3 linked regions of the Homo sapiens genome follow. The protein of the gene in region 2 purifies or fractionates together with the protein of the main gene of each other region. This does not show direct contact. Each region holds a gene or a part of one and is shown on either strand. Other genes may lie near its edges.

Region 1 (3,653 bases), on a different chromosome or scaffold from region 2:
GAGGTAGGAAAATCTTGGGATTCCTGGAGTGACAGCGAAGAAGAATTTTTTGAATGCCTAAGTGATACTGAAGAACTTAAAGGAAATGGACAAGAGAGTGGCAAGAAAGGAGGACCTAAGGAGATGGCAAATTTAAGGCCGGAAGGACGGCTCTATCAGCATGGGAAACTTACACTGCTGCATAATGGAGAACCTCTCTACATTCCAGTAACCCAGGTAGGATGCACTAGTTCTTTCCATTTTAATTTATTTTGTGGTTTATATAACTTCATCCTAGTAGAAGATAGTGCTTTGAGTAAGGAAAATTATCCAAAAAGTCTATGTTTAGGCCAGATGCGGTGGCTTACGCCTGTAATCCCAGCACTTTGGGAGGCTGAGGTGGGCAGATCACCTGAGGTCAGGAGTTCAAGATAAGTCTGGCCAACATGGTGAAACCCTGTCTCTACTAAAAGTACAAAAATTAGCTGGGCACAGTGGCGCACACCTGTAGTTCCAGCTACTGGGGAGGCTGAGGCAGGAGAATCATTTGAACCCAGCAGTGGGAGGTTGCAGTGAGCCGAGATTGCACCACTGCACTCCAGCCTGGGCAACAGAGCAAGACTCTTGTCTCAAAAGAAAAAAAAAGTGTTTATGTTTAAAGATAAAGATATAGACTGTTTAAAGAAACTAAAGGTAAGGATTTCCCAATGACATAGATAAATGTGGTCTTGATTTAATCAAGGACCTTTAAAAGATTGGACAAAGTCTATGTTTAAAGATTAAAGAAATCTAAATAAACTTTTGGGGCTTTTAGGTTTGCCATTTCTGTAATTGAGAAATGTTTTGAAGTTTAAGTAGATCACGTCATCATATATAAGGTGATTTATAAACTGAGCAGTGAATGCTCAGATGTTTAAAAAAGAAAATCCAACTGCACTTATGTATGTTTTTGTTTAACTTGTGGACAAAGACTTATGGATAGGTGCAAAAAATAAATCCTCTTTTGCAACCCAGAACTCATTGTTCAGTATGAGTTTTGATACATATAAGAAGGGATATTATGATACCTGAGACAGTTAACTGATGGGAATATTGATAGCCATAAAGGTTGGTCCCAGACCAGGCACAATGGCTCAAGCCTGCAAGCCCCACACCAAGGTGGGAGTATTGCTTGAAGCCAGGAGTTCAAGACCAGCCTGTATAAGAAAGTAACAAACACCTCATCTCCACAAAAATTTAAAAATTAGCTGAGTATTGGGGCATGTGTCTGTAGTTGCAGCTACTCAGGAAGAGGAGGCTGAGGCAAGAGTATTGAGCCCAGGAGTTGGAGGCTGCACTGAGCTTTGATGACACCACTGTACTCCAGCCTGGGTAACAAAGACAGACCCTGTCTCTTAATTAAAAAAGATTGATTCTAGGACTGTGGAAGAGATAGTTAAACAGCATGGGATATGAAGGAAATCCTCAGCAGTATTAATTTTGCATTCCAATTTCATGTTGACTTGATACCTACGATGGCTTTTTGTTTTAAAGGCTTTTATCTTGAGAACATGATGTCTGTAGTTAAAGGTATTGGCGTATTCCACACATCTGTACTATTCTTGAGTATGATCGCTTAGGGTGTCAAATTGAGAACCAGGCAGATCCACCACCTACAGTAAAAAGGACCCTAAAGTAAATTGGTTGAAGAAGTTAGATCCCAAAGATTCTTGGTGAATTTTGAAGTCTTCATCAGTATATCCATATTAAAAGGAGATGACAGAAGCCAAAATAAAAGAATTATGGGCTAACAGGACAGCTGGATTAAAATAAGCATCAGTTTCATTAAAAAGGGCTAACTTGAAGATAAATCTTTTGACTCCAGCTCTTTAGAGGATCTGAAGTGACCTTGATGGACAGTGGAAGAAATCACAACATGGAATTACTTGAACAAAAATTTATTGACTTAAAGAAAAAGAAAAAATCCAAAAATATATAGAGAGAACAAAAGTAAATATCCTTCAATTATATGATTAGCTTTTATCTGTTCAAAAATAGTTTGAAGTCATATACACCATTAGGATGTAGAACAGCAATAACTCAACAACAACAGCAGCAATAGTTGTTTTTAAGGGTTTTGTTTTGTTTTTTTTTTGTTGTTTTTTTTTTGACACAGAGTCTCTCTTTGTCACCCAGGTGGGAGTGCAGTGGCATGACTGTAGCTTACTGCAGCCTTGACCTCCTGGGATCAAGTGATCCTCCCACCGCAGCTTCTCAAGTAGCTGGAACTACAGGTGCATGCCACCATGCCTGGCTAATTTTTCGTGGTTTTTATAGAGGTGGGGTTTTGCCCTGTTGTCCAGGCTTGTCTTAAATTCCTGAACTCAAGCCATCTGCCTGCCTCAGCCTCCCAAAGTGCTAGGATTACAGACATGATCCACTGCACCCGGCCTGAAAACATTCTATTGTGAAAATTGTAATCTAGTAAAAATGAAAGAGGCTCAACGCCTGTAATCCCAACACTTTGGGAGGCCGAGGTGGGGTTGGATTGCTTGAGCCCAGGAATTCAAGACCAGCCTGGGCAACATGGTAAACCCTATTTCTACCAAAAAAAAAAAAAAAAAAATTAGCCGACTGGGGTAGCGTACACCTGTAGTCCCAGCTACTCGGGAGGCTGAGGTAGAAGAATCAATTGAGCCCGGGAGGTTAAGGCTGCAGTGAGCTATGATTGTGTCACTGTTCTCCAGCCTGGGCAACAGAGCAAGACCCTGTCTCAAAAAAATAAAAAGTGAAAGCCACCATCCACTAATTTTGACTTGCATTCCTTGAAGTAACTAACAAGTATTATTGGTTTGGGTTATATTTCTTATAACTGTTTCTCTGCATTGATGTATAATACATATATGTGTGTACATATTAATACATGGTTTTATGGATTTTTTTTTTTTTTTGGAGACAGGATCTCATTCTGTTGCATAGGCTGGAATGCAGTGGCATGATCATGGCTCACTGCAGCCTTGACTTGCTGGGCTCAAGTGATCCTCTGACCTTAGCCTCCTAGGTAGCTGGGACTACAAGTGCTCACCACCATGCCAGGCTGATTTTTTCACTTTTAAAATTTTTGTAAAGATGGAGTCTTGCTATGTTGCCCAAGCTGGTCCTAAACTCCTGACCTCAAGCAATCCTCTGTTTCGGCCTCCCAAAGTGCTGGGATTATAGGCATGAGCCACTGTGCCCAGCCTCAATTTCTTATAAACAATTGGTATTACCAACCATATAAATTTTTGTTAACATGATGGTCAAAAGTAGTATCTCAGTGTTTTAGATTGTATTTTTCTGAATTTTCATGAACCTGAGCATCTTTTAATATGTTCGTTAGCCGTCCTTTCCTGTGAATCGCCTATGATTTTTCTTTTAGGTTGCTCCCCTGTTCTTATTGATTCATATGAATTCTTCATATTTTAGATGTGAATCTACAGTTATATATATTGTATATGTTTTCTGCTAGTCATTTTAAAAACATATGTTCATGTATTTACTTAATTATTGAGTTATAACTTAATACAATAAAGTGTACAGATCTTGGCTGGGCATGGTAGCTCATGCCTGTAATCCCAGCACTTTGGGAGGCCAAGGTGGGCAGATTGCTTAAGCTCAAAAGTTCAAGACCAGCCTGAGGAACATGACAAAACCCC
Region 2 (3,653 bases):
GTGGCTCATTGTTTTTTTTGGCTTTTTCTCTTCTTGAGTGTCATTGTAAACTAATGGGTGTTTAAATAGCCGGTGTGCTTCAATCAATTCATCTTTTCTTCTTTGTATTGTTTTTTGAGACAGGCTTCTATTCTGTCACCCAGGCTGGAGCACAGTGGCACCATTGTAGCTCACTGTAGCCTGGATCACTGGGCTCAAGTGATCCTCCCACCTCAGCTTCTTAAGTAGCTGGGACTACAGGTGAGCACCACCACACCTGGCTAATTTTTTATTTTTATTTTTAGTAAAGACTAAGGTCTCGCTATGTTGCCCAGGCTGGTCTTGAACTCCTGAGCTCAAGCATTTCTCCTGCCAAGGCCTCCCAAAGTGCTGGGATTACAGGTATGAGCCACTGTGCCCAGCCCAATTCATCTTTTTAAAAAATATATGAAAATTGTTTTTGGCCAGTGGGAGTCCCTTTATTTTGGCTTCTGAGGTCTTTGACACCTTACAGTGGCGTTGATAGCCTCCTTGATTCTGGCCAAGTTGTCCCATTCGAGTTTTAAACATTTCCTGCCATTCCTCCCAGAAGCCCTGCTCCTTTGTTGGGTAACGGTATTGGGAGTCAGTCTGGATGCTGGCGGTGCCCGTTGCTATGCGTTGTCATTGCCTCCAGACCATGCAGTTTAACAGAAATATAATGAGAGCCACCGTTGTAACTTAAATTTTTTTAGTAACCATATTAAAAAAAAAGTAAAGTTAATGAAATGTTTAACTCAGTATATCCCAAATAATATCATTTCAACATATAATTAATATAAGTATTTATTCATTGAGGCATTTTACATTCTTTTTTCATACTAAGCCTTGAAATCTGGTGTGAATTTTATACTTATAGCATATCTCAATTTGGATTAGTTACATTTCAAGTGTCCAGTAGCCACAGTGGCCAGTGGCCGCCACATGAAATAGCACAGCTCTAAATTTTTCTCATTGGGCAGAGAAAGGAAATTCGTATTTTTGAGAAACAGATCATGAGCTTATATTAATATCTGAAAATCCAATGTAGTCTTGAAAAATTTTCTTTGATAGCATACTCATATTTCTTTTTTCTTACCCTGAAAATCTTGGTTTTAAACAATATTAACATAATTACTTATTTTCTTTATCCTAAAATATATTGAAAATAGTTTCAAGATAATTAATACAGTACTACAGCTTAGAGTATTATACTGAATGAGGTTTATAATTTCTTTGCAGCTCAGTTTGTTTATAGAATATATTTCATAGGTGGTATTTTCAAACATACCATGCTCTAAAGTGATTTAAATTAATTCTTTTTTTTTTTTTGGTGGTGGGGAGGACAGAGTCTTGCCTTATTGCCCAGGCTGGAGTGCAGTGGCATGATCTCAGCTCACTGCAACCTCCGTCTTCTGGGTTCAAGTGATTCTCCCGCCTCAGTCTCCCAAGTAGCTGGTACTACAGGTGCACCCCACCACACCTGGCTAAGTTTTGTATTTTTAGTAGAGATGCGGTTTTGCCGTGTTGGCCAGGCTGGTCTAGAACTCCTGGCCTCAAGTGATCCACCTGCCTCCGTCTCCCAAAGTGCTGGGATCACAGGCATGAGCCACTGAACCCAGCCTAAAATAATTCTTTCTTTGTGTCTATCGCCTGCTTGATTTAGTTAGCTTAATTAATCTAGTTCGAGGTATCAACCCAGGTATATTTGGACTTGCACAGCAGTAAGGCTGCTACTAATGAGAAAGAAAGAGAGAGGAGCTTTCAGGCCATGAAGAGTTTATCTCTCTGGTCCTCAGGCTTATCAACTTAAAATAGGGGTAAGGATTCTTGCCTGCAGAACAAGGAAGCACTTTTAAAGCTAGAAGGTGCTGTACAGAAAAGACTCTTACCTTTGCGTCTAGCTCTTGAAGCAGGCTCTCCTCTCATGCCAGGTACCCTCCCCAAGCCTTGTGTGGCATCTGTTAGTGTCTATAAATCTGGACTGAAATGCCACATTTATGTTTTATTTAGCTCCAGAACAAAGGACTAACAGACTACTGCTTTGACTATAACCCTCCCGATGAAAACCAGATTGTGGGACACCAGGTCATTCTGTACCTCTGTCATGGGATGGGCCAGAATCAGGTAGGTATGAGCCTCAAAAGAGGAGAAAGCTGTGTGTTTTGTTAAAAAAATTAAATAGTTGAATTTTTTTCTTGTAAAAGTAATATTTGGGAAATATAAAAAGTAGAAGCCTAGGGTGGCCAGACTCAGAGAGACCACTGTTAAAATTAAAATGTGTTTTCTTCCCATCATTTTTTACACATAACACACAGAGATTATGTGTTGTAAATAGTTGTCATAATGTCTGTATGTTTTATATTCCATTATTTCCATTCCCTTCATCTACTTTTCTTATGTTATTAGATACCCCTTGAGAATATCATTCCTAGTGGCCACTTGATATTTCATTTTGTACCTGTATTACTGTTTCGTTAACTGGTTCCCTGCCTCCCTGTCTTTGCAATTATAAATAACCCTGCCTCTAACACCTTGGGTCAGACAGAAGGAAGGATAAAGTAACAGATCTGCATTTCAGATGATTTCCTTAGAATTAATTGTTAAGTGGAATGACAGGTTTAATGCATAGGGCCACCTTGCAAGGTGGTGTTTAGGGACATTGCCTCAGCTGGGGGCCAGGTGTATCTGTCTGGGTGAAGGGCTGTAATTCAGGCTGGGCAGGGGAGATTCAGTCCTGGGGGAGTCTGAAGACCAGAAAAGGACCCCCAGCCCTGGAAAGCAGTTGACAGGACCCTTGGAGGATGCAGGAATGGAGAGAAGTGTTGGTTCTGGGCCTCTGAAGCTTCACCGTACCAAGGAGTTATCAGACACCAGGAAACAAAGGGATAGAGATTCAGATGTTGTTTTTTCCAATCTGGATTCACCCCAATGCCACTTGAATATGAGGCCTTCTTATGGTCAAGAGTAAACTTTCTTAATTCCAACCCCTGCAACCTTAAATTATTTAGGTTTTCAACACTGTTTAGAACAGCCTTCCTCAAAGCTGATGGTACCTGAGTGCTACCATCAGCATCATCTGGGAGCTTGGAAATGCACATTTTCAGACTGATCCCAACACTACCGAATCCCAGACTCTTGTTTTAAGCAGCTTTTCAGGAGATAATGGTGTGACAAGCCCTGCTCTGTGCGCCTTAAGAACACCCACCTGTGTCAGAATTTTTGAAAGGGGCTGGTGGGGTGGGTGGGTGTCTTGTCAAAGATGCAGAAAATGCAGCTTCCTAGGCCCCACCTCACACATAAGGAATCCTTATTCCGTCTCTGGGATGGGGCCAGCAATCAGCATTTTTAACAGTCACTGTAGGTAGTTCCTAGTACACTCAGGTAGGAAAACCATTGTCCGGGAAGAACCAAGTCTTCCCGTTAGCGGTCACATTGTCTGCTTGTGCACAGCACTTTACATCTTCTAGGAACTGTCATATTGGGGGTTTGGGAGGAGAGACTGAGGAAAAGGAGAGGAAGTAGCTAGTCAAGGTCACAGAGAGCCCCCAAGAGCTAGTGCTGCGATGGGTCCATTTCCCTTCCTCCCATCCCACACCAACACAGCATTCAGCACTGCAGGCAGGAGGTGACATGCACCAGCCCTGTCTCCCTGT
Region 3 (3,653 bases), on a different chromosome or scaffold from region 2:
TGCTGGTTGCTCTTCCTCTTCCTTTGCTTGCTGGAGTGCCTTCTTTTCTCCAGCTGTTTTGTCCATTCATGAGATCTCCTCCAGTCCTATGGCCTTATATGCTCATGTCTTTTATGGCAGTGACTCAAAACCTGCCTTGTTGAACTTGTCCACTTAAAAATGGGCTTAGCATCACAAATTTAGCATGGCTAAAACAGAATTCTTGATTTTTACCTTGTGCGAAATCTGCTTTTCTTGTCTTTGCCACTTCAGTATATGATAACACCAACTACTGAGTTGCTCAAAACCATTTCATAGATTGGGGAGATAATATTTAACCTTTGTTGTGGGAGCAAATACATGAAAAATACTGATTCTTTTTTTTTTTTTTTGAGATGGCATTTTGCTCTTGTTGCCCAGGCTGGAGTGCAATGGTGCGATCTCAGCTCGCCGCAACCTCTGCCTCCCGGGTTCAAGTGATTCTCCTGCCTCAGCCTCCCAAGTAGCTGGGATTACAGGCACACGCCACTAAGACCTGCTAATTTTGTATTTTTAGTAGAGATGGGGTTTCTCCATGTTGGCCAGGCTGGTCTCAAACTCCTGACCTCAGGTGATCAGCCCGCCTCGGCCTCCCAAAGTGCTGGAATTACAGGAGTGAGCCACCGTGCCCGACCTACTGATTGCTTTTAAATGTGTTTTTTTTATGGAAAGATTGGCAGAGCATCTTGAATCCTCTCATATAATGTGCACGCTTTGCTTTTAAATGTGTTTTTTTTTATGGAAAGATTGGCAGAGCATCTTGAATCCTCTCATATAATGTGCACACTTTTATGTCTTGAGCATTGGCTTTTATCCATTTTCAGATGAGTTTATAACTTATAAAAAATAACTTACTATAAAAGTAGATAACAGTAGATAACTTCCTTTTTTACCTGAGCTTCCTAATTTTGGGGCATATAGTACTTCTAGGAATATTGCAGGGGTGTGTGTGTCTGTGTGTGTGTGTGTGTGTGTGTGTGTGTGTGTTTGGGGGAAGTTACAGGATAGATAAGGCAGTATCTTCTTGGTTTGGGATTTTTGTGCTCTTAAAAGATTTCATGACATAAAGATGAAATTAAAACATATATGAATATATTATGGTCTGGACTTGCAAATCACATGAATTTTTAAGAAAAAAAATAGAACCTGCAAAGAAAGTTCAGGTTTGTCTGCCATTTGAGACTCTGACCAGGAATACTTTATAGATAAGCGTTCACTCCTGGCTGCTGGTAGGACCACTTTGGAAGAAGACTTTGAAACACTATGGTTCATTATTTTTTTTTTTAATGAATCTGTCAAACCAGTTGAAATGAATGCTTAGAATTAAGTTTCTCCAAGAAGTTTAAATCTATTCCAGATTATCTTTGTTTAGTTTTCTTGGGTTAGTGTTCATAATCAAGGGAGAACCAGAATGTTCAGAAAGCCAGACTGAGACCAGAGCTCTTTGTAACGAGACTCAAATGATTACCTGCCCATCATTGAAGGGGGCCAGCCCCTCCACACCTGTGGGTATTTCTCATCAGGTAGGACGAGAGACTGAGAAAAGAAATAAGACACAGAGACAAAGTATAAAGAACAGTGGGCCCAGGAGACTGGTGCTCAGCATATGGAGGACCTGCACCGGCACTGGTCTCTGAGTTCCCTCAGTATTTATTGATTACTGTTTTACTATCTCAGCAAGAGGAATGTAGTAGGAGAGCAGGGTGATAGTGGGGAGAAGGTCAGCAAGAAAACATGTGAGCAAAGGAATCTGTGTCACAAATAAGTTCAAGGGAAGGTACTGTGCCCGGATGTGCACGTAGGCCAGATTTATGCTTCTCTCCACCCAAACATCTCATTGGGGTAAAGAGTAACAGAGCAGCATTGCTGCCAACATGTCTCGCCTCCCGCCACAGGGCGGTTTTTCTCCTATTTCAGAACTGAACAAATGTACAGTAGGGTTTTATACCAAGACATTCCATTCCCGGGGCAGGCAGGAGACAGGCCTTCCTCTTATCTCAACTGCAAGGGGCCTTCCCCTTTTACTAATCCTCCTCAGCACAGACCGTTCACGGGTGTCAGGCTGGGGGACGGTCAGATCTTTTCCATCTCATGAGGCCATATCTCAGGCTATCACATAGGGAGAAACCTTGGACAATACCCGGCTTTCCTGTGCAGAGGTCCCTGCGGCTTTCCGCCGTGCATTGTGCCCCTGGTTACTCCAGAATGGAGAATAGTGATGACTTTTATCAAGCATACTGCCTGTAAACATTTTATTAACAAGGCACATCCTGCACAGCCCTAGATCCCTTAAATCTTGATTCCATGCAACACATGTTTCTGTGAGCACAGGATTGGGGCAAAGTTACAGATTAACAGCTCAGGGCAAAGCAATTGTTCAGGGTACAGGTCAAAATGGAGTTTCTTATGTCTTCCTTTTCTACATAGACACAGTAACAGTCTGATCTCTCTTTCTTTTCCCTACAGTCATGAATAGCTATGCATCTATTAATTCTTTGAGAGGTGGGGGCCCCTTTTAAATTAATGAATACTCAGTAGATTCTTTTAAGGCAGACATAGAGTAGCACAAGCATTTTCTCCGAGAAAAGTGGTTTGTGGTGGTTCTGCCTCTTCATTCTCCCTCTACTTACTCTGCTTTCCCTTGACCTAGTCTTCCAGTTCCTAGTGCAGAAGGGTTCTATACTGTAATTACTATTAGGGAAATATTGAAAATGGCTATGAAATGTTTTGAGTCCCACCGTGAAGAGACCATGTAAATCAAGTGATAAGACTACATTTTTCTGTGCTGTTTTTGTTTGTATTTTTAAATTTGTGCTATTTCAAAAAATATTAAATCATTATTTCCTTCTGACAACTTTCCCAACTAGTTGAATGTTAACACTATCTTAATAGCAGTTAATCATTCAACAGACCTTTGTTGAGTACCTGCTAAGTACCAAGCTATCTTCTAGGCACTAAAGGTTTAGTTATGAATGAGAGTAAAGAAGTTCTTGCTCTCATGGAGTTTCCATTCTGATAAGGGAGATAGACAATAAATATGTAAACACGAGTATAATATCAGGTAATATAAATGCTGTGGAGAAAACCAAAGCAGCTTCTCTTTTCTTTCTTCCTCCTGATAAAACAACTACAAACAGTCAACACACCCAGTTAACCCTGAGCAAGCTACCTAATTTCTTCATGCCTTTGTTTTCTTATTTGTAAAGCATATTTACCCAGTTTACCTCACCAAGTTGTGGTATTTTTAAAAAAAGAGATGGAAAAGGGTTGGGGCGGTGAAAGATGCATGTGAAAGCCGTTTGTAAAATATGACTACAGGCCAGGCGCGGTGGCTCACGCCTGTAATCCCAGCACTTTGGGAGGCCGAGGTGGGCAGATCACCTGAGGTCAAGAGTTTGAGACCAGCCTGACCAATGTGGTGAAACCCCGTCTCTCCTAAAAATAGAAAAATGAGCTGGCGTGGTGGCAGGCGCCTGTAGTCCCAGCTACTCGGGAGGCTGAGACAGGAGAATTGCTTGAACCCAGGAGGCAGAGGTTGCAGTGAGCCTAGATGGTGCCACTGTACTCCAGCCTGGGTAACAGAGCGAGACTCCGTCTCAAAAAAAAATGCTATAAATGTAAGGTATTATTATTTG

What was found.
Region 1: the proteins of GALNT12 (region 2) and RAB3GAP1 purify together in Homo sapiens (affinity purification with mass spectrometry; one large-scale study listed by BioGRID and IntAct). This does not show direct contact.
Region 3: the proteins of GALNT12 (region 2) and OBI1 purify together in Homo sapiens (affinity purification with mass spectrometry; one large-scale study listed by BioGRID and IntAct). This does not show direct contact.

Annotation. Positions count from the first base shown.
Region 1 is NC_000002.12:135,135,717-135,139,369, forward strand, and holds part of RAB3GAP1 (rab3 GTPase-activating protein catalytic subunit), read left to right. Parts: coding exon 1-216; intron 217-911; exon of another isoform or gene 912-1,039; intron 1,040-3,653. UniProt on the Homo sapiens protein: Catalytic subunit of the Rab3 GTPase-activating (Rab3GAP) complex composed of RAB3GAP1 and RAB3GAP2, which has GTPase-activating protein (GAP) activity towards various Rab3 subfamily members (RAB3A, RAB3B, RAB3C and RAB3D), RAB5A and RAB43, and guanine nucleotide exchange factor (GEF) activity towards RAB18.
Region 2 is NC_000009.12:98,842,086-98,845,738, forward strand, and holds part of GALNT12 (polypeptide N-acetylgalactosaminyltransferase 12), read left to right. Parts: intron 1-2,010; coding exon 2,011-2,124; intron 2,125-3,653. UniProt on the Homo sapiens protein: Catalyzes the initial reaction in O-linked oligosaccharide biosynthesis, the transfer of an N-acetyl-D-galactosamine residue to a serine or threonine residue on the protein receptor.
Region 3 is NC_000013.11:78,645,632-78,649,284, reverse strand, and holds part of OBI1 (ORC ubiquitin ligase 1), read left to right. Parts: intron 1-3,653. UniProt on the Homo sapiens protein: E3 ubiquitin ligase essential for DNA replication origin activation during S phase.